Linked DNA regions of Homo sapiens. The protein of the gene in region 3 interacts with the protein of the main gene of each other region in a biochemical or structural test. Each region holds a gene or a part of one and is shown on either strand. Other genes may lie near its edges.

Region 1 (7,872 bases), on a different chromosome or scaffold from region 3:
CTAGGTTACAGGAAAGTCTAAAGAAAAACCTTCAGGCTGAAAAGAAATAATACCATATGGCAGCTCTATCCACAGGAAGAAATGAAGGGCACCCAAAATAGTATAAGTTAATATAAAAGACTCCAGAAAAATACTGTGCGACAAACCAATATCCTTCATAATTACAGATGTAAAAATCCTTAACAAACTATTAGTAAACCATATCTAGCAACACATAAAGAAGACTACATGCCATGACCAAGTGGGAATTATCCTCGGAATGCAAATGTGGCTTCACATCTGAAATCAACTAATGTAATACACTATTATTCACAAAATAAAGGAGAATAAAACCACACAATCATCTCAGGAGGAAAAAGATTTGCAAAATTCAATACCCATGTTTATACATTTATTCATGATAAAAACTCTCATCCTTTAGAAATATAAGAGAACTTCTTCAACATGACAAAGGGTAGCAATAAAAAAAACCTATAGCCAATGGTGAAAGACTGAATGCTTTCCCCTCCAATTTTAGAAACAACACTGCATTCACGGTTCTAGTCAGTGTCATAAGGAACGGAATGGAGTGGAATGGAATAGAATAGAATAACAACATTACATTAAAAAAATTAAAGGCATCCATATTGGAAAAGAACTAGTTAAGTTGTCTTTATTCACAGATGACATGCTCCTGTATTCCACTAATTAGGATTCCACTTAATCATTGTAGTGATTCTATTAAAAAAACACCACACTGGAACTAATAAACACGTTTGGCAAGATCACAAGATACAAAATCAATATACAAAACTCAATTGCATTTCTATACACTAGTAATCATCTGAAAATGAAATTTTAAAAATTGCACTCACAGTAGTATCAAAAAGTATACAATATTTACAAATCAATTTTGCAAAAGGAAAGGAAAAGGCTGACACCCTGAACACTATAAAACACTGTTGAGAAAAATTTTAAAATATCTTTTTTAAAAGTGAAGAAACATTTCATGTTCCTGGATTGGAAAACTCAAAATTGTTAAGATGAAAATTATCCCCAAACTGATCTATAGATTCAATATAATATCTATCAAATCCTAGCCAGCTTTTTTTTAATAGAAATTAAGAAGCTGATCCTAAAACACATATGAAAATGCTAAGAAGCCAGAAAAGCCAAAAAATGTTTGAAAAAGAACAAAGGTGGACAATTTACACAACCTAGATTTCCAGATTTACTTAAGGCTAAAGTAATTAAGAGCATGCTACTGGCATTAAGAGTAGGCATACAAATCAATGAAAAAGAATTTGAGAATGCAGAAATAAACCTTTACATTTATGTTTAGTCAATTTTCAACAATGGTACTAAGGTACTGAATGAGGAAATGATTGTCTTTTCAACATATGGTGCTAGGACAACTGATATCCATCTAGAAAAAAATAAATTTAGAGACTAACCTCAAATATACAAATTAACTCAAAATGTATTTTAAGTGAAAGAATACTGAAAAATTTTTAAAATAAAACAGTAGAAAATCCTGGTGACCTTCATTAGGCAAAGACTTTTTTGGCCAGTCCAGATTCTGTGTGAGGTAAATTAGAGTCTACCTCTGGGGAAGGATCGTAAGGGTCATGGGATAAATGGTGCTACTGCAGCCATCTTTGGAAAAGAGAATCTGTTTCACCTGGCTAGATCTGCACTGCCTGGTCCACACTGCATGATCACCAAAACTTACTCCTCTCCTTAGCTGTGGTCTCGCCATAGTTTCAATTTTGTAGTCATTTATATGAAAAACTGACTCATATCTGACTCTTTGCCATTAAACTCCATGAGGGATCATGTATTTTATTAGTTCACATCTGCCTACCACATAGTAAGCCCTTAGAAATTTTGTTTTTAAACTAAAAGAAGAAATAGATTGTCATATTTGCTCATGGGAACTAAAGAAAATACTAGCCATTTCAGTTCCCAGGTTATTACATACTTAATGCAATTCTATGTCCTGGCTTTTTAAAGGCAAAAGTGATTTAAATATCCTTTCCCTATAAATATAATAATTGTTTTCCTCACAGATAATATAATCACAGTACATGTGCTGTAGTATGTAAGTCAATCCACCAAACTAACCTGGGATAACCAAAGACAGTCTTATCCAGAGAACTACTTGGCAGATGTGTCAGCTTCTCTAAAATAAATTGTCTGCAGAGCCAAAGTGTTGATGCTTTACGATTCTTTTTATCAAGAGCATGCAAATGACATAATAAGTCCTTTTATCAAGAGCATACAAATCACACAAAAGACTTAAATCAACTTTCGTAACAGAGGTAGAGATGTATTCCCTTTAAATTGTCACATCCTTAGCAATGTGAAGGTGTCTGAAAGGGTTAAAACAGACAGTCAATTTTTAACAAAACATCCAAAATACTTGGCAGAAGCTAGCTAAATAGCCCATCCCCTCTGGGCTCATTATGGTTATGTCTGTTATATTTATCATGTTGTACTGAAATCATCTGTTGATGTTTCTCTTTTCCTCTAAATTACGTATTATATTATACTAAATGAGGGCAGGGACTGCTTTTATTCAAGTCTGCATGCCAACACCAAGCACTGTGCATGGCACACAGAGGCACTAATGGTTTTGTGTTGGAGAACAAAAAAGTTGTACAGTGTCACATAAAATCGTAGGAAAAGCGTTTCAAAACCTGAACTAGTGATTGTGCTATGCAAGTTTTTTAGCCATGTAACCTTGGCCATATTATTAAATCTTCCTGAAATTCTAACACCTCATATATACATAAGGAATAATGCCCAGTAATTTACAAGGACAATGTAAGGTCTACTTGAGGTGATGTCCATACAGCTTTACAGCAGAAAAGGAGCTATGCAAATAACAGTTACAGACAAGAAGTATCAAGGATTAAAGCAAAGACTTTAAAGTACAAGTTAACTATCAAGAAAAATGGTACTAACAGGGATGAGGAACTTTTTGATTTCTTCCAAAGCATGTCCCATCCTGGCATAAGCTTCTGCAGGTGGGGCAAACACTTCAATGAGAACATGGAGATCATCATTGAGATGGAAGTACTTCGCTTCTCCACTTTTCCTCAACTCTTCTTCCTGGAAAAAGGAAAAAAGAAATCACATTTAAAAACGTGTCATTATAAGAAATGAAAGATAAATAAATAAATAAATAAAAACTAACCCCCAAAATAAAAACAATCCATCTGGCAAGCGGTTGTCACAGTAGACACTACTCTAAAAAAGAAGGTTTAAGCTATAAATGTGATCCTGATATTCCCAGGCTTTTACACACACTCAAAGGCTTCCTACTGCTGCTGGAATAATGTCCCACTCCAGACGCTGACTTGTAGGAGCCCCATCATCTGCTCACTTCCGCTGCTAGGGTGTCTTCACCTTCTCCAGTCTCCTTTGCTCAACCCTCCGCAGCCACTGCCCACACTTCTTTTGTGCTTCTCAACCTGGCTGAGCTCACGTGCTCACTTCTACACTGGCTGTGTGCGTCTCTGTGATGCTGGTACAAGGCACTTATCACTATCTGAAATAACTTATTTTTAAAAACATGTCTATTTTCTATCTTCTCTTAGTAAAAAGTGATTACCATGGAGCAGACACTGTGACTGCTTTGCTTAGTGATGCATTTTCCATGTCTAGAGAAGTGCTTGGTATACAGATGTTCAACAAAGATTCGTTGAATGAATGATTAAACATTCATTCATTGCTATGTCAATTTGCTCGTTCGCATATTCATTCAAAAAACATTTCTACATACCAAGCACTATATTCTATCTGAGAATAAAACAGTGAATAAAACAAAATGAAAGACTTTATTACGTTATTTTACATAATTATGACAAAGTTTTTAATCTTTGTTTGTTTCCATAAGGAAATGCAGGACGAAAATTAGGAGGAGAAAAAAACAGATCGTTAAGGAACTACTGATTTTGCTCCACTGCCTTTTCCTAACTAACCTTCAATTTTAGGTCCTGATTTCAGAATCTGGGTCTTCCATTAGTCTCTGTTTCCAATGTTAGTATCAGACAGATTAAGATTAACAGGAATCTGAGGCTAATTTCCAAAAGATAAGAAATCTTTCTAGTCTCTCAAAAAGGCTATCCCATAACCAAGAGAACCCCAGGAATTCCTGGCAATACCACCTTTTAATTTCACAATTAAGCAAGAGGCCAATAATAAAATAAATGCTAGAGGCACATAGCCCTTGACTTCACCCTTGAAGGATTCAACTTCTGTTACTTGACTAATTTGAACTCTTACAAAGAAAAGAAAGACTAATACACAGAGCGGGAAATGGGCATGGGATTTAGTCACCTATAATTTCATCTCAGCTATGCCAGTCACTAGCCATGTGAGTTTAGACAGACTGTATGTAATCCAATACTTAATTTGCAAAATCTGTTTATTGGTAGCACATGTATATTAATGCAGAACTACTGAGAATACAAGGCACAGCTTTATATAAATGCTGGCGAAAGGAGACAGTGTATATACTACCTAGTACACTGCCTAACATATAATAGGCACCAATACATGCTAGCTTCCATCACATTAATAGAAGTAGGCCAGAAACTGAATGAAAGGAAAAAATATAAGGGAATATATGTAAATATAAGCTGCCATAATATTCTATAAATTTCCTTTGAAATTTGTTTTGACTATACAAAACATTATCTTACGCCAACTCTTCATTGTTCTAATCAGAACATTTCAACCATCTGATCTGAATCTCTCTCATTGCTCAAGTTTTAAAAATTGCATTCTATGTACAGCAATTCATCCCTGAAAGCACAAATTATTGAAACAAACACTTATCCTTTTCTAATAGAGTATCAAAATAATGATGTTAATGAAAGATTATAATTGTTCATTATTATTCAAGCATTATTATTTCTATCACAAACTTAAGCTGGACAGAGAGGATTTCTTATCATAGCTGTAGCCAGGGTACAATCCCACAGAGAGGGGAGTTATTACCAAACTACTCTACAGATTAATGATGACAGGCAATGTGTTATTTGGAGAAAAACACAGATGTTGAAATTCTGCATTAAACCCCTAATTCAACATTAACTGTATGACTTGGGCAGATTACATTACCCTCATCTTAAAGGGGTGATTTTTAAGTGGGGAAAATAATAGTACAGTACTTATCTCATAAGGCTGTTATAGTAATAAAGGAGTTAACAAACAAAACGTCTTTAGGATGAAGCCTTGCACATAATAAGCGCTCAGTAAATGATAAATATAGTAATGATAATTATTATATCACTATCATTTATTCTATTATTGTATAGTATAAATGATGCAGGCAAAACATCCAGCATGAAGTTTGGCACAAGCTGAAAGCTCAACAGACCGGAGCACTGTCATGATTATTATGCTATGTAACCAACTAATATACATCAATAATGACTCCCATAATTTCATAAATGTAGCAAATAAATGCAGAAAAATTATATTCACATTAGATTTTAATAGTGAACACTTTGAAAATCTAAATGGATGAGATTAAAATAATAAGTAATGGGAATCTCTTTAGAAATAAACATATTAACTGATAACTTCTGAAAACTAAAACTAGTAAAAAGGATCAACTGAAATCAATATTCAAGAATTCAGGCAGTGACTATCTGATTATAATACAGCAGATGGGATACTAGTAGTATCTTTTTTTTTTTTAATTTATTTATTTTTTTGGGAGACAGAGTCTTGCTCTTTCACCCAGGTTAGAGTGCAGTGGCTCAATCTCAGCTCACTGCAACCTCTGCCTCCCGGGTTCAAGCAATTCTCGTGTCTCAGCATCTGAGTAGCCAGGATTACAGACGTGCACCACCATGCCCGGCTAATTTTTATATTTTTAGTATAGATGGGGTTTCACCATGTTGGCCAGGCTGGTCTCGAACTCCTGACCTCAGGTGATCACCCCGCCTTGGCCTCCCAAAGTGCTGGGATTACAGGCATGAGCCACCATGACTGGCCAGTATCCATTTAAGTTGCAAACCTGTTACTTAAATGATCATCTGTGGTCACCCTCAGTAAAATGCTTTTGAAAGAATGACTGATGGATCATGTGACAGAGGCTACAGCGCAGTATGGGACAAAAATGGGGAGAGGAGTACAGGTGGACAAGAGATAGACAAAACTGGTGGAAAAGAGTTTAGAGAGAAAATGACAGACTGGGGCTTTACATTATCAGTTCAAGCCCAAAGAGCCAGAAGTAAGCTAGGGTGCACCGCTTGCAGCCACAGGTTGACAGGGCCAACAAACAGGTGCAGAGTTCAAGTCTGTGTGCGGCTGAATAACAATACAGATGCTCAGCCGTCTCTTATGTGAGACTCAGGACAGTGTCTGGATAACAGTGAAAACCTAAGAATAAATTAAACCTGAGAACACATTGACGTCTGGGAGGATTCAAATAACTTTGAGTACTCAAATACTGAAATGCCACAGAGCCTTCCACACGGCAAAAGCCTGCCTGGTGATGTTTTTCCCATGTTGCTTACACAGCCGAGGTAGTTCCTTGAAGGGAGATGACAATTCTCATGCTTCACTACTCCTCCTCCTTATCATCTCCTGGCCTACGATCAATCTCTGCTTAACCAAACATGCAGAGAATAAGAGAGCTATGTTAAACCCAGGGGAAAGGCTGCTTGCGTACAGTAACTATGATATTTCCTAGTGTGTGAGCTTCCTCCTAGTCCTCCCAAAACAATGAATCTCTCTAATAAACCCAGATAATATATTCAAATTCTCTGAATCTCAGATCCCAGCAAGGATCTCGGACATTTTACTAGAGTGACTTTACACCGAGCAGAGGAAACACTTAGACAGTTTGAGAATTAACAGAACTGATTCTGACCTAATGCCACTCCACTGAGGGCCACCAAGCAGAGTGGGGCTTATGGGATTAGAAGGTAAGGAGACTTCTGGTCTCAGTCCACTGACAGTGGGTTCAGTGGATTGTAAATCCACAATGTATGCTACTCCCCTCCCTGGTTCCTGAGTGCCTTGATGAAATATACACAATCAGCCACTTGCAGAATCACCATACTGATTTCCAAAGACATAGAAATGAAAGAACCAGTGAATGGGTGATCTGGAAAAGAGGGTCAATCATGTAAAATCAGGGTGTCCCATGCAAATGCAGAGCTGGCATTCAGCCAGGTAGTCAAGAGGACTCATTGCAGCAGATGCTAGAGCACCTTAATCCCCAGCAGTCTCCATGCAACTCAAGGTGCTCATCAGCAAAATGGCCACGGTGGCCAGGAGGGAAGTCATGCATTACTTCATAACACCGACTCCCCTCAAAAAGGATCACTGGCTATTGACATGCTGTGTGTCCAATATGCCAACAGCAGACAGCCTTGATATGACAATATCATCTGGAAGGCCCACCAAGCCCTGACACCAAGCTGATAATATTTAGGATCCCTTTCATTATATGGGTAGTCAGGCACTTGCTGTTAACTCGGGCATACAATCCAGATAAAGCTTTGCCTTCCTTGTTTCCCTTCTACCTGTAAAATTCTTGTGGATGCCCTGATAACTACCACTGTATGCTACAAAACACTGCTTCTGACCAAGCAGTGGTTCTGACCAACCCCCTTAACAACAAACTAAATAAGTGGGACAGTGGAATCCTGCTTGTGGGTTTCACTGCTCATATCGTGCAGCCCATTACCAGATGGCCTTATTAGAGCGTGAACTAAGATATCAGCAAGGGTAGAGTACTTTCCTGCAAAATACACATAATTTCTGACCAACTGGCCAAATATATGTTTTCATTTTCTCCTACTGCCAGAATAGATGAGTCAGAGAATTGAAGTCATAATTTAAGAGAGCAATGTTTAGTGAGTAATT
Region 2 (7,872 bases), on a different chromosome or scaffold from region 3:
GCTGAGGCAGGCAGATCATGAGGTCAGGAGTTCAAGACCAGCCTGGCCAACATAGTGAAACCCCGTCTCTACTAAAAATACAAAAACTTAGCCAGGCCTGGTGGCAGGCACCTGTAATCCCAGCTACTTGGGAGGCTGAGGCAGGAGAATCACTTGAACCCGGGAGGCAGAGGTTGCAGTGAGCCGAGATCACGCCATTGCACTCCCACCCGGGCAACAGTGCGAGACCCCATCTCAAAAATAAAAAACAAAACTAAGGATGTGAGAAAAACTGATACATTTATTTTAACAAGATGCTCAGAATATAGATTCCTATTATATTTTTATATAATGATTACCTGTGAAACAACTCTTTAAATTTGGAAACCTATGTGAGTAAAGGATAAGATCTATTCCCTGTGACCTCAGAGGGTCAGTGAACTAGGACTAAAGTGGAAACTACTGAAAGGTGCCTTTCTACCTTGTCAACACTCTCCAGAACAGTACAGGCTTCCACTTAATGTAAAAACATTCTTATGCTTAATTGAAGAAACTAGTAGTGGAGATGGGATTAGACTGTACCTTTTAATTTCTAACATTACCATTTTGTAAAAGTAGTGGATTTTGTTAGCCAGCTTGGTAAGAAGGTATGATGACATTGTTAATAGAGTCCACATCATAATCAACAATTTACAAAGACTATAAACAATTTTTACCTAGTATCTCTGATGTATAAGGTCCTCGGCTAAGTTCTGTGGAGGCATATAAATTGGCAGAGGCCCTGTCTGTCTACATATAACTTAACAGGGAAGATGATGAATGCTGAAAGAAAGAGACAAGAAATAGGCCAGGCGCGGTGGCTCACACCTGTAATCCAAGCACTTTGGGAGGCCAAGGTGGGTGGATCAGCTGAGGTCAGGAGTTCAAGACCAGCCTGGCCAACATGGTGAAACCCTGTCTCTACTAAAAATACAAAAATTAGCTGGGCATAGTGGCAGGCGCCTGTAATCCCAGCTACTCGGGAGGCTGAGGCAGGAGAATCGCTTAAACCTGGGAGGCGGAGATTGCAGTGAGCCAAGATCGTGCCACTGCACTCAGCCTTTGAGAGCAAAACTCCATCCCAGAAAAAAAAGAAGAAAGAGACAAGAAATAAAGATTAAGGACTAATAGCTGCAGTGTCAGTACAGGAGGGGAGAGATTTGTAGGAAATTAGGGGAAGACTTCATAGAGGCAACCACAGCCAAATGGGGATTTGAAGGAAAGGTTGCATTCAGGCAGGCACAGAAGGGCTGAAGGTTGGACTTGCCAGGCAAAGGAGTGGAGGTAGGAAAGTATTTAATAGTGGGTAGTGTGGAGGGAGTTTCGAGTGTTACAGTTTGGTTGTATTGTGGAATTCATGAAGAGGGGCAGCCGGAAATTATGGCAACGTGGTTTGGGGCCAAGTTCTGGGGCACCTGATTTGTAGATAATTGTAAGTCATTGAAAGTTTTGGAGCAGTGAAGTTACATGAAGATGAATCTGGCAGCAAGATAACAATTGAGGGAGGCAGGCTTATTGGCCAGGCTATAATAAGACTTTAGACAAAATTAATGAGCATTTAAATGAGTGGCATAAGTGAGGAAGAGAGGTTGAAAAATAAATTATGGTAGGATGAACAGTATAAAGCAGTTAATCAGATTTGAGGACAAGGGAGATGGGAGAAATAAACTGGATGTAGTTTTGACAGACATTTAGTATTGCTGGAGTGCTTAGAGAAGAGGGAAAACCCTCCAATAGAATACCCAACTGATTAAAGAGAAAAATAGAAGCGATAGTGACATAGGCATTTTTCTTATCATTCCTTCCCCCTCCCTCCCTTTCCCCTTTTGCAAAAAGAAGGATGCAAATTAGAGAATTTGCTCTCAGCTAAAGTCTGGGGTTTCAGAGAGCAGCTCAAATTCATTTAGGAAACACGTTTTAAGCATCTGCTCTGTGGCAAGCATTGTGCTCCATATACAGAAATAAGACATAATTATCTCCTGGAAACTGAGCTTAACTGGGAAGACAAACATTTTAACAGGTGAGTTATAATGTACTAATTGTATACTAGAGGGGTGAGCAGACTGCAGTGAGAATAAAGAACCAACCAGTTCTACTTGGGAGAACTGAAAAAAGGGAAAGTTAAAGTATTGAGTGGATTTTATGTTTGTATATTTAATCTTCAAAATTGAAATATTACAGTTTTATTGATGATAAGCTTCTCAATTGTATAAGTGGTGGGGCCAGGATTAAAATCCAAGACAAGCCATTATAACATCAGCTTCAAGGAAACTTAGCAGAGTCTTGAAGGATGAATAGGTGTTTGCTGAAAAGAATGGCATGGATAGAAGTTCATTGTGGTTGGACCATGGGCTGGTAGGAGTTGAGTCTGGAGAAGTACGATAAGATGTTTGAAAAGTTCTTAATCTGGGAAGTGATGTGATTGGTTATATCTTTTTGGATAATAACTGTTTGGAAGGAAGGAGGAAGTGCCTGAAATGGGTTGAAACTGGCCACAGAAATCAAGTTTAGGAGACTTTATTTTTATTTTAATCTTTTCCACCCTCCTCCCCAAATTTAGAAGACTTTAAAGTATGAGATGATTGAGGCTTAGTGACACTGTGTGCAAAGTTAGTGATTTTGGTGACTGTTGACAGCGAAATTTGTAATTGAAAATATTGACTTTCAGGAAGCTGATTGTGGCTGTTCATTCTCTGTTATAGAAAGGCAGTTTTTGTTTGTTTGTTTTTCAGAAGGAGTCTCACTCTGTTGCCCAGACTGGAGTGTAATGGCGTGATCTCGGCTCACTGCAACCTCCGCCTCCAGGGTTCAAGTGATTCTCCTGGTTCAGCCTCCCGAGTAGCGGAGATTACAGGCGCCTGCCACCGTGCCTGGCTGATTTTTGTATTTTTAGTAGAGATGAGGTTTCACCATCTTGGCCAGGCTGGTCTTGAACTCCTGACCTTGTGATCCACCCGCCTCGGCCTCCCAAAGTGTTGGGATTACAGGCGTGAGCCACCAGACCCGGCCATTCTGATGTGTTCTTAAGACTAGATTTAGTTTATGATCTTGTGCCAAGACCACCACAGAAGTGCTGTTAATTTCAGTGCATTTTATCAAGAGGTACCTGGCTGTGGATTAGTCCCATTCCATGTTTCCATGTGGTGGTAACTTTGCTCATTTGGCCAGGCACAGTGGCTCACACCTTTAATTCCAACACTTTGGGAGGCCGAGGCAGGCAGATCATCTGAGCTCAGGAGTTTGAGACCAGCCTGGGCAACATAGTGAGACCCTGCCTCTACAAAAAATTAAATAAATTAGCCAGGTGTGGTGGCAAGTGCCTGTAGTTCCAGCTACTCGGAGGCTGTAGTGGAAGGAACACTTAAGCCCAGGAGTTCAAGGCTGCATGAGTTAAGATCACATCACTGCACTATAGCCTGGGTGACAAAGTGAGACTGTCTCTTTAACAAAAAAAAAGAAGCTGGAGTCTAGAGGCTTAATTTTTTATTTATTTATTTTTTTTTTGAGTTGGAGTCTTGCCCTGTTGCCCAGGCTGGAGTGCAGTGGCAGTCTCAGCTCACTGCAGCCTCTGCGTCCCAGGATCAAGCGATTCTCCTGCCTCAGCCTTCTGAGTAGCTGGGACTACAGGTGTGCGCCACCACACCCGGCTAATTTTTGTATTTTTAGTAGAGATGGGGTTTCACCATGTTGGCCAGGCTGGTCTTGAACTCCTGACCTCAGGTGATCCACCACCTCGGCCTCCCAAAGTGCTGGGATTGTAGACGTGAGCCACCACACCCGGCCTAGAGGCTTAATTAGATTCAAGTTAAACAGATTTTGGCAAGAAAGTTTCGTGGATGATGTTTCATTCATCATGTTGCATTGCATCAAGAGCTCATAATGTCAGATGTTTCACTATTAGTGATGCTAAGTTTGAAGGTGACGGCTAAATGTTTGCATTGAAAAGGTACAGTTTTCCCTTTCCAAATAAGTAAGTGATCTGTAAAGAGAAATTGACTTTTTTAAAGCAAATAATGGTGAACTTAAAGGAGCTCCCCCAATTTTTTTATTGCATTAGAATTTTGCTGAACCGGGCCAGGCACAGTGGCTCACACCTGTAATCACAGCACTTTGGGAGGCTGAGGCCAAGGCAGGCAGATCACTTGAGGCCAGGAGTTCAAGACCAGCCTGGCCAACATGGCAAAACCCTGTCTCTACTAAAAATACAAAAATTAGCTGGGTGTGGTGGTGCACACCTGTAATCCCAGCTACTCGGGAGGCTGAGCTACGAGAATCACTTGGACCCAGGAGGTAGAGGTTGCAGCCAGCTGAGATGGTGCCATTGCACTCCAGCCTGGGCAACAGAGCAAAACCCCAATTTTTTTTTTTTTCTGAACTAAATATTATTTGAAATAGTATACAAAATTTGTAGCTTTAGTATTTGCTGTGATGGTGTTTAACCAATAATTGTATAGTTATATCCTGAAAGTGTGGCTGAACAACTATGCCTAGTATTTGAACTTGAATTGTGAGGAATATAGGGCTGTAGCTAACCAGAGAGATCTTTGGTGGAAATAACCCTAAACTATAATAGACTAGACTGGACAAAACCAATGGATTCCAGTTTTCTTCTGCCACATACCACCTTTGTCATTGTATGAGCTGTTTAACTCTTTTAGTGCCCCATCTGTAAAATAGTGATTGTGTGGTAGCATGTTAGAATGTTAGTAGGGTGAGGTGAAGGCAGATCATTTTCAGCTGTCAGGTGCCACTAAGTTGCTTGTTTACTTTGTGTAACCTAAGTTAGTGGTTAATAGCATGAGCGTCAGAAACAGGCAGATTCAAATCCTGTTATCCAGATGCAAGTGGTTATGTACTCTAAGCCTCAGTTTCATCATCTGAATATAGATATGGTACTTATCTTACAAGGTTGTGATAACTAAACATAATAATGTATATAAGGCATAGCAAAACATTTGGCACATACTAGGTGCCCAGTGTGTAGTAATTGCTGTGACTACATGGTATACCACCTTCCTCTCCCTGAGAAATCTCAGGATATTGGACACACTGAACTACTCCATTCTAAACCTTAAACATAAAAACAAAAGGCCGGGCGCGGTGGCTCACTCCTGTAATCCCAGCACTTTGGGAGGCTGAGGCGGGCGGATCACAAGGTCAGGAGATCGAGACCATCCTAGCTAATACTGTGAAACCCCGTCTTTACTAAAAATACAAAAAATTAGCCGGGCGCGGTGGCGGGCACCTGTAGTCCCAGCTACTCTGGAGACTGAGGCAGGAGAATGGCGTGAACCCGGGAGGCGGAGCTTGCAGTGAGCCGAGATAGTGCTACTGCAGTCCGGCCTGGGTGAAAGAGCAAGACTCCGTCTCAAAAATAAATAAATAAAAACAAAATAAGCAGTTGACCCAGTATTAGAATTACGGTTAAAATTGGAAGCTTTTCCAGTTCTTCTAGTCCATTATTAGCCTGTACAGGCTCTAACACCAAATGACAGGATTGAACCAAGATTCCTTCTAGCTTTACACTTTCATGATCTTATGTAGCATAACATGAAAAAGCCTTGGCAACATAGCGAGATCCCGTCTCTACAAAAATAAAAAACTTACCTGTACATAGTGGCTCACGCTTATAGTCCCAGCTACTTGGGAGGCTGAAGCGGGAGGATTACTTGAGCTGAGGAGTTCGAGGCTGCAGTGAGCCATGGACACACCACTACACTCCAGCCTGAGTGACAGAGTGAGAGTGAGACCCTTACTCTAAAAAAAATAGGCCAGGTGCGGTGGCTCATGCCTGTAATCCCAGCACTTTGGGAGGCTGAGGCGGACGGATTACCTGAGGTCAGGAGTTTGAGACCAGTCTGGCCAACATGGTGAAACCCCGTCTCTACTAAAAATACAAAAATTAGCCGGGCGTGGTGGCACACGCCTGTAATCCCAGCTACTTGGGAGGCTGAGGCAGGAGAATTTCTTGAGCCCAGGAGACAGAAGTTGCAGTGAGCCGAGATCGTGCCTCTGCACTCCAGCCTGGCAGAAAGAGCAAGACTCTGTCTCAGAAAAAAAAAAAGGAAAAATATATTGCAAAAAGATGGTAGTAAAAATGCTGCTAAAGTTTATAAATGTGTCAGTATGAATAAAAAGTGGTGGCTGTTTTGGTAGAACCATCAAAAGAAATAACCAGGCTGGGAACAGTGCTTCACGCCTGTGATCCCAGCACTTTGGGAAGCTAAGATAGGTAGATCGCTTAAGCCCAGAAGTTTGAGACTAGCCTGGGCAACATGGTGAAACCTTGTCTCTACAAAAAATTAGCTGGGCATGGTGGTGTGCATCTGTAGTCCCATTTAGTTGGGAGACTGAGGTGGGAGGATCATTTGAGCCCCTGGAGGGGTGGAGGCTGCATTGAGCCATGATTGCACCACTGCACCCCAGCCTGGGCAACAGAGTGAGACCGTGTCTCAAAAGAAAAGAAATAACCAGTTTCCTTCAAACTCTGATGTATGGGAAATTGTTCGTGTCTTAGCTTAATTTTTTGACCCACTGAAATGGTTATGGTAAGACCTCATTATATACAAAATAGCATATTTTGATGTTCCATCAGCTGATGGAGACACTCTTTAGATGAAAAAGTCAAGATAGTATCATCTCAAATAACCATGTGCCTTTTACCCCAAAAACACTGAAGAGTAGCATTTGAAAAGTGGTATAGAAAACTTATAGGGAAAATGTAAAAATGAAGCATTTTCTCAAATATAAAAGTAAGGATAAGCCCTGTGTATGTGTGTACATATAGGTTTAACATTTCAAATCTTTTTTCTTTTTACTTCCTCAGTCTGTTCATTACCAACAGAGGTAAGTTCTTTAATTTTTTTTTTTACCTTATGTATTTGAAGTTATTCTTGGTTTTAAAGCTACCTTGAGAATTTTTTTTTATTTTTCATTTTTGATTATTTGATAGTAAAGCTTTAACCTTTTATAGAGAACTTTGATTTAGAGTAATTTTTTGGTCTTATATATTCTTTCCTAAATTTAGACCTTAAATCATACATGTGCATCTTTTGCACATGGCTGTGCAGTTTGGATTTTTGCATGGGACTTATGAATAGTCAGCTAATAAAATAAGAGTAACCTTAATGCCAAAATCTATACAAATGAGCAGAGGAAAGAAAGGGCAGTATAAATTATGTGTAAGACTTTCTAAGTCCAGCTCTATGAGCAAGTCATGAAAATGAGGCACTTATGTGCTCAAAGCAAGAAATAGAGGGAGAAGAAATAAATTGGTACTGTGAAGAGGTACCTAATCCTTCTTAATATCTAATTTTTTATGGGACATATCGTGGTTGAATACAGATTTCCTGTGGATAAGAAGTCAGATGGGAGTGGTTTGTTTTATTCTTTGTATTAACAAGTATAGGGGGTGATTTTTAATTACGACATATTGTTTGACTGAAAATGTTTTGTTGTGACTCAGTTCTTTTTTTTTCTCCTAGTACTGTGAATATATGCCTGATGTTGCTAAATGTAGACAATGGTTAGAGAAGAATTTTCCAAATGAATTTGCAAAACTTACTGTAGGTATGAACATTTTTTTTCTTGCATTAAACTTCTGTACCTGAGACAAATGCATGTATGGCATTATTCTAAAGATAGGAAAGTCCTCCTTTAGTAGGATATTACAGAATTAACATTTATCTGTTAGCTGTTTAAGTTCTCTCTGAGATAGGATAGGTCTGAATATCAACTTTCTTACATAAAAAAGTAAATGGGCCGGGCGCAGTGGCTCACACCTATAATCCTAGCAGTTTGGGAGGCTGAGGCAGGCGGATCACAAGGTCAGGAGATCAAGATCATCTTGGCTAA
Region 3 (7,872 bases):
CAGGGCCTTCTGCAACGCCTCCAGCTTAGACGGGGCCACCCTGGGGTGCAGGTGAATGAGGAGCCGCAGCGCGTGCCGGTGCACGTTCTCCTTCCTGGAAAAGGCCGTGCAGGGCTGGGGCAGGAGGCAGGCCCTGCTGTCTGCCCAGGCCCAGCCCAGATGCAGGTGGCCAAGGCCCCTGGAGACAGGACATGGCCAGCCTTTGGGACCCTCCCCAGCTGTGCCCAGGCACCCTGCAGGGCCACATGCGAGCCCTGGTGCCCAACAGACCCACCTGCGGACCCTCCGCCCCAGGCTGGGGACAGCAGCCACCTCTCAGGCTGCTACGGACAAGAGCTGAGAGGACAGAGCGGGCCGGATGGTACCCAGCAGGCCTACCTTGGAGAGGCGGTGAGGAAGAAGCCATCGAAGAGGCTGCTGCAGAAGTCCTCAAGGGCAAATTCGTCGGCCAGCAGCGCAAGGTTGCCCGTGAGCAGGTGGAGGAAGATGTCGCCAAAGGCCAAGTCGCCAAAGGTCTCCACTGCAGACACAGCAGGCATCAGCCCAGTGCCACTCACCCTGCCCACCCCAGAGGGCACCCTTGTCCTCAAAGACCTCAGAACCTACTTCTGGGGGTGCTCACATGAGAGTTCTCAGTTGTTCTGAGATGAGAAGCACAGGGTCTCAGCAGGTGAAGAGGGGGGTGGGAAGTGGACAGAGGCAGGCAGGGGGTGGGACCTGTGGCAGGGAAGCAGAGCTGCAGCCCAGGGACAGGAGGGTGGAGGGAGGGGGAGACAGCCCAGGGACAGGAGGAGGGTGGAGGGAGGGGGAGACAGCCCGGGGACAGGAGGAGGGTGGAGGAAGAAGGAGACAGAAAAACGAGGTGCTCCTCCAGTCCCAAAAGGCCTTGCCCAGCAGCCGAGCCCAGGAGAAACAAGCCTAACAAATACAGGGCCGGCGCCAGCTGCAGAGAGTTCTCCCTGACTGCCAGCTACACTGAACCACAGGAAAGAGAACGAAACTCTTCCACATTCTTTTCTGAAGCCAGACACCAAAACACAACAAAGACAGCATTCGTGCCCACAGACGCCTCACGTGCGACCACAGCACAGAAGCCACGGTGTTGGCAGACATTTGCCAAGAGCCAGCACAACGCCCCAAACGGGGCCCCTGCAGGGAGGGAGGGCGGCCGCCTGCAGACTGATGCCTGAAGGAGCTGTGGCCAGGCCACATGGAGGTGACGTGTGCGGACAGGTTGAGGATGGCCTTCCTAGTATCCCGGATGGGGCCTTTATGAGGACAACCCAGCTGGCGCCACCTGCGCCCAGAGTGACAGAAACATTTCCAGGAGACCCAGGCCCCCGAGGTGCCTGCCTGCCACATCTCACAGGGCCTTGGCCGGCCACATGGCCAGGTGGCCACGGGACACGTGGCAGGCACACAGTCCCGACCAGGGGATCCAGCAGCAAGGCCCCACTGGGCAAATGCCCTGATTCCTGCAACTCCGGGGAACCCAAGACTGCGAGACAGGAGAGGGGACAGCAGGCGCATCCCAACCCTGACGGGACCGTCCACACAGCAGGCAGGAGACACCTGGAGAAGCGCAGCCACTGTCAGGCAGTCAGTCGGCAGAGGAGCGGCAGTGAACCTGGCTCAGATGTGACAGTGGCCCGTGGTCCGTGGTCACTGGTTTTTATTTTTTTTGAGAAGAGTCTCACTCTGTTAGCCAGGCTGGAGTGCAGCGGTGCAATCTCAGCTCACTGCAACCTCCACCTCCCGGGTTCAAGCGATCCTTCTGCCTCAGCCTCCCTCAGCTGGGATTACACGCGTGCGCCACCGCGCCGGGCTAATTTTTCTATTTTTAGTAGAGATGGGGTTTCGCCACATTGGCCAGGCTGGTCTGGAACTCCTGACCTCAGGTGATCCGCCCGCCTCGGCCTCCCAAAGCGCTGGGATTACAAGGTGAGCCACCATGCCTGGCCAGTTTTTTAAAGGCATTTAAAGACAGTCTTATTTTTTATTTGTTTTTTTTGAGACGGAGTCTCGCTCTGTCACCCAGGCTGGAGTGCAGTGGTGCAATCTCGGCTCACTGCAACCTCTGCCTCCTGGGTTCAAGCGATTCTCCTGCCTCACCCTCCCGAGTAGCTGGGACTACAGGCATGCGTCACACACGCGGCTAATTTCTGTATTTTTAATAGAGATGGGATTCCACCATGTTGGCCAGGCTGGTCTGGAACTCCTGACCTCAGGTGATCCACCCGCCTTGGCCTCCCAAAGTGCTAGGATTACAGGCATGAGCCACCAAGCCCGGCTCCCCGCCCTTTTTTTTTTTTTTTTTTTTGAGACGGAGTCTGGCTTTGTCGCCCAGGCTGGAGGGCAGTGCCGTGATCTCGATTCACTGCAACCTCTGCCTCCCAGGTTCAAGCGATTCTCCTGTAAACGCATCCTTCTTTTGTAGAGATGCCTACGTCTGCAGCCTGCATGCTGTGATGTCTCAGATTTACACCCAGACATCGTGCTGAGGGACAGGCGGCCACACGCAGACCCCACGTGGACCCCGGGGAGGTTGGAGATGGTGCTGGGTCCTCACCGTACCATGCTCTTGACTTCGTATTCTTTCACAAATTCCCACCACAAAATGTTAAAAAATAAACAGGAGAGAATTCTAAAAATCAACATCCATTCTTACTAGAACCCGCTAAAAACTTAAGAACACGCGTGCTCTCCCCAAATGTGACTGAAAATGCACATCCCACCCCGTGGGGCAGCCACGTACTCCGAGAAGCTGCACTCCTGGTTCCCAGCCTGTTTCTAGCCACAATCAAATGAGAGAAAGAAACAGAAGCGCACGGAAGGCCTCCCAGGTGAGTCTGTCATTGTGCGAACTCCACAGTGACTGACACAAATCCAGAAGGTGCCACCCACTGCACACTGGGCTGGGCCATGGCCTCATGCCCCTGAGCTAGACACCTGCACAGCACATGGCTGTACTGAGTACTGAAGGCTGCTGGGACACAATGGCAACTGTGTATCTAAATAGAGAAAGTGGAGTAAAAATACAGTATTGTCAGCTTATGTGACCGCGTGGTCGTATATGTGGTCCACGGTAGACAGAATGTTATGTGACACGTGACTGTACTGCAGTGGGCAGGCCAAGGCAAATTAAAGTTATTTATAACTATGTTCCCGGAAGTCTCAAAAAATAAACAAACCGGCTCTGCCCGGCGGCCGGCAGCACGATGTCCCAATGCCCTCAAGAGCCTCCCTGAGCCTCCAGAAGGAGCGGCAGTGTTGGCACCCGCAGAAGCCCAGGAGGTCATGTCTGCCTGCGCTGTCTAATGCCACTGTCTGTGGTCATTCGTTCCAGCAACAACAGGAAACCCAGGCCCAGGCAACCCAAGCTCAGTGAGAGGATGGCTGGGGACAGGTTAATACCCACAGGTAACTTCCTCCACAAAGAAAGCTGGAAAACGCATGCACGCGCCATCCTCAAACACACCAGCCACCGAGAAACACAATAGGCACGTGCTGTGGTGTGGACGTGTCCCCAAGTTCACCATCGGAAACCTGATCCCCAACGCAACACTGCTGAGGTCGTGAGGGCTCCGTCCTCACCAAAGCGTTCTCGCTGTTAGCACAGGAGTGGCTCCTGATAAAAGGGTAAGTGTGGCCCCTTCTCTGTCTCCGTCTGTCTGTGTCTCATCTCTAGCTCTGTCTCTCATCTGTCTCTGTCCTGTGTCTCTCATCTGTCTGTCTCCATGTCTCTCCTGTCTCTGTCTCTCTTACCTGTCTCTCATCTCTCTGTGTCTCATCTCTGTCTCTGTGTCTCTCATCTTTGTCTCTCATCTTGGTCTGTGTGTCTCTGTCTCTCATCTCTGTCTGTGTCTGTCTGTCTCCCCTGCCCGTGCTCTCTTGCCCTCTGCCTTCCACCATGGGATGACACAGCAAAAAGCCCCAGCCAGATGCAGGCCCCTTGACCTCGGACTTCCCATCCCAGCCCGCAGAACTGGGAGAAGTCCCTGCTCTTTGTTTTTTTGAGACGGAGTCTCGCTCTGTCGCCTGGGCTGGAGTGCAATAGTGCAATCTCCACTCACTGCAACCTCCACCTCCCAGGTTCAAGGGATTCTCCTGCTTCAGCCTCCCAAGTAGCTGAGATTACAGGCACCCACCACCATGCCCAACCAATTTTTGTATTTTTTTAGTAGAGACAGGGTTTCACCATGTTGGCCAGACTGGTCTCGAACTCCTGACCTCGTGATCCGCCCGCCTCAGCCTCCCAAAGCACTGGGATTACAGGCCTGAGCCACCGTGCCCGGCCGTCCCTGCCCTTTCTACACTACTCAGTCTCAAGTCTCTGTTAGAGCAGCATAACGTGGACTAAGACAGCAAACCCCAGACAAGGCCTGAGTCAGCAAGGAAGAGCCCAGGGTCTGTGTCACAGTGGGTACCGCAAGGCTAAAGAGGCCCCATCTCCCATGGGACCCACAGCAGGCTAAAGAGGCCCCATCTCCCAGGGGACCTGCAGCTCTACTCTTGAAGGTGCCCATTTGGACCCTTCCTCTTCTTCCTGGCTTGCAACAACCCCTCCCCCGTCAAGGCCCCCAGGAGGAAGTGGGCCTGTCACCACCTGGGGTGGGGCACTGGGGCAGGGGATCTCTCTCCCTCCCCTTTGCTCCATTCTCTGAGCACCTGAGGGGTCCCAAGCCCCTCGCCAGTTAGGATGAAATAAAGACAGCTCTTACATCACCTTTTTGTGGGAAAGCACAAAGTTGAACTCCCTCTCCCTTTCCTAGTAAAATAAACTACAAACAAAAGTAAAAGTGAAAACGAGGCTGGGAGTGGTGGCTCACACCTGTCATCCCAACACTTTGGGAGGCCGAGGCGGGCGGATCATGAAGTCAGGAGTTCGAGACCAGCCCAACCAACATGGAGAAACCCCGTCTCTACTAAAAATACAAAAATTAGCCTGGCACGGTGGCACGCGCCTGTAATCCCAGCTACTCAGGAGGGTGAGGCACGAGAAATCACTTGAACCTAGGAGGCAGAGGCTGCAGTGAGCTGAGGTTGCACCACTGCACTCCAGCCTGGGCGACAGAGCAAGACTCCATCTCAAAAAAAAAAAAAAAAAAAAGGTGAAAACAAAGCTAGCAAAGTTGGAGGTGGGCTGGGGAGACAAGGCAGCTCCTGGGGGCCCTGGGGCCCGCACCCTGGGCAGGACTGCATACGGCAGCTGCCGCAGGGAAGACACAGCCAGGCACCGCCCGTCAGGACTTACCCAGCCCGGGCAGCAGGCGGAGGAGCGCGTTCTTGTTCCTCTGCTTGGTGATGTGCAGGACGTAGTACAGCCCCACCTCGCAGGCCATGCGCTGCTCCTGCAGAAACCTGCGCCCGGGGCGCCATCAGCCCCACCTCAGCCCCACCTCAGCCCCACCTCAGCCCCACACCGACCCCTGCCCAGCCCTGAGGCAGCCCCCTGGGCAACAGTGCCATCCCTGCGCCACGGCCACCCCTGCACCATGGCCCTACAGCCCGTACTTAGTGAAGCTTTCGGGAAGTGTGTTTGGATATGAGACTGGGGCTTTCTCCTCAGCCGGAAGTTTCTGATCCACATTGAAAGTGTAGTCATCCACCAGGAAGGACATGAGCATCGGGAGGAACCTGGTGATGAGCTCTACCTCCTACGAGGAGGGGAGGCCATGAGCGGGCGCGGGCCCGGGCCCTGCCCCACCCCACCCTGACGTGACACACACCCTGCCCCTGGCCCTCCCACTCCCCCAGATACCTCACCGACCCTCCCTCCTCTCCAGGTCCCCAGGTCCCTCTTCCCACCTCCCGAGTCCCCCACCCAGGCCATCTCCTCAAACCCCCTTCTAGGTCTGGACCCACATGGAGTAGTCACCACCTGTGGCCAGCCATGGTCCATGGAGACACCCCCAGAACAAGCCACGGTCCACGGAGACACCCCAGAACCAGCCACGGGCCATGGAGATACCCCAGAACCAGCCAGGGTCCACGGAGACACCCCAGAACCTCCCTGGTGGGCATTTTCCCAAAAGGAAGGTGGGCAGCTCCAGGAAGGAAGCTTTGGGACCAAAGGGGCCTCCACAATCACCTTGCTAGCGCCTCCCCCTCCACCCCACTTCCAGCCCACAACCCCTCGTAGGAAACTGGCAGCCCCCACAGGAGGCTCGTTACCATCTTGGGCTCCTTGAAGACCTGGCTGTCGATCATGTCCCAGGCTCCCTGGCCCAGCGCCAGCAGCCGGAGCAGCAGCAGGAGGTCGGGGCTGTCCTGTAGGGAGGACGGGCTCAGCGCCTCTCCCAGGCAGCTGTGTCCTGGCCATGGAGCTCCTCTGACCCTACTCGTTACTCAGCAGGATCTCTGGTGCCCATGGCCAGGACCACACGACTGCGATCACCAGCCCCACACACGGGGTGAAACGCAGTCTCACAGCGGGGAAGCACACGCCTCTACCTGGGCCACTGCAGTCCACATCCCCGACCACCAGAGCAGCCAGCAGGGCGGCCACAGGGCCCCAACAGCTGCCTCCACCTGGCCGCTGCTGTCCACACCCTGACCACCCAGAGCAGCCAGCGGAGTGGCCGCATGGCCCCGACAGCTGCTGGCCAAGCCCACACTCACCCTGGGCAGTGTCTCCTGGCCGACCAGCTCCTGCAGGTGCCTGACTGTGCTCAGTGCCAGCGTGTTGATGGCGAAGGGGTCACACAGGATCATGGACAGGTCCCTGGAAGGAGGCCGCCCTGGCATTAATGCGACGCCTGTTGCCCCTCCCTTCAGCGGCACAGTCCTCAGGAGGGGTGGCCTAGGCTGAATTCAGGACTGGCAGCGGGTGCCCATCACATGCTGGGTTTCTTACAAAAAGCTTAAGGATGGCCGAGCGCGGCGGCTCAGCCTGTCATCCCAGCACTTTGGCAGGCCGGGCGCGGCGGCTCAGCCTGTCATCCCAGCACTTTGGCAGGCCGAGGCGGATGGATCACCAGGTCAGGAGACTGAGACCAGCCTGGCTAACAAAGTGAAACCCTGTCTCTACCAAAAATACAAAAAATTAGCCGGGCGTGGTGGTGGTCGCCTGTGGTCCCAGCTACTCGGGAGGCTGAGGCAGGAGAATCACTTGAACCCGGGAGGCAGAGCTTGCAGTGAGCCAGGATCGCGTCACTGCACTCCAGCCTGGGCAAGAGAGCGAGACTCTGTCTCAAAAAAAAAAAAAAAAAAAGCTTAAGGTTTGCAATTTGTCCTTAACCTATTCAAAGATTTTTCAAATTAAAAAGTTAAAAAAACAAACAAAAAAAAGGCTGGGTGTGGTGGCTCACGCCTGTCATCCCAGCACTTTGGGATGCTGAGGCCGGTGGATTGTTTGTTTGAGACTAGCCCGGGCGAGGTGGTGAAATCCCATCTCTACTAAAGATAACAAAAATCGGCCAGGCGCACTGGTGTGTGCCTGTAATCCCAGCACTTTGGGAGGCGGAGACAGCAGGATCAATGCCCAGGAGGTTGAGGGAGACTGTACCACTGCACTAAAGCCTGGGTGACAGAGACCCTGTCTCAGAAAAAAAAAAAAAAAAAAAAAAAGGAAGAAAAAAAGTGGCAAAGGCAGGGCCAGGCAGCACTGTGTCTATACACCAGCCAGAGGATGCTGGAAAGCAAATGCCAATGGATGCCCCTCAGCTCAGAGGCTGACCCCACGCCACTGCAGACACCAGACCCCAGCCCCTGGGCCTGGCTCCAGAATGCAGAGTTGAGGAGGGAGACTTTGCTACCCACACACATCCCGACAACCATGTCCCTAAGCTGTGGGCCAGCAGTGCCCGGCATAGCTCTATTGAAACATCCAGGAGGCCAGGCACGGTGGCGCATGCCTGTAATCCCAGCACT

The links.
Region 1: the proteins of NELFB (region 3) and KHDRBS3 form a complex in vitro, tested with the Homo sapiens proteins (one study listed by BioGRID).
Region 2: the proteins of NELFB (region 3) and DENR form a complex in vitro, tested with the Homo sapiens proteins (one study listed by BioGRID).

The regions. Positions count from the first base shown.
Region 1 is NC_000008.11:135,543,975-135,551,846, reverse strand, and holds part of KHDRBS3 (KH domain-containing, RNA-binding, signal transduction-associated protein 3), read right to left. Parts: intron 3,094-7,872; coding exon 2,947-3,093; intron 1-2,946. UniProt on the Homo sapiens protein: RNA-binding protein that plays a role in the regulation of alternative splicing and influences mRNA splice site selection and exon inclusion. Binds preferentially to the 5'-[AU]UAAA-3' motif in vitro.
Region 2 is NC_000012.12:122,755,343-122,763,214, forward strand, and holds part of DENR (density-regulated protein), read left to right. Parts: intron 1-6,844; coding exon 6,845-6,864; intron 6,865-7,502; coding exon 7,503-7,587; intron 7,588-7,872. UniProt on the Homo sapiens protein: Translation regulator forming a complex with MCTS1 to promote translation reinitiation.
Region 3 is NC_000009.12:137,264,729-137,272,600, reverse strand, and holds part of NELFB (negative elongation factor B), read right to left. Parts: intron 6,725-7,872; coding exon 6,622-6,724; intron 6,271-6,621; coding exon 6,175-6,270; intron 5,658-6,174; coding exon 5,515-5,657; intron 5,362-5,514; coding exon 5,255-5,361; intron 521-5,254; coding exon 379-520; intron 95-378; coding exon 1-94. UniProt on the Homo sapiens protein: Essential component of the NELF complex, a complex that negatively regulates the elongation of transcription by RNA polymerase II.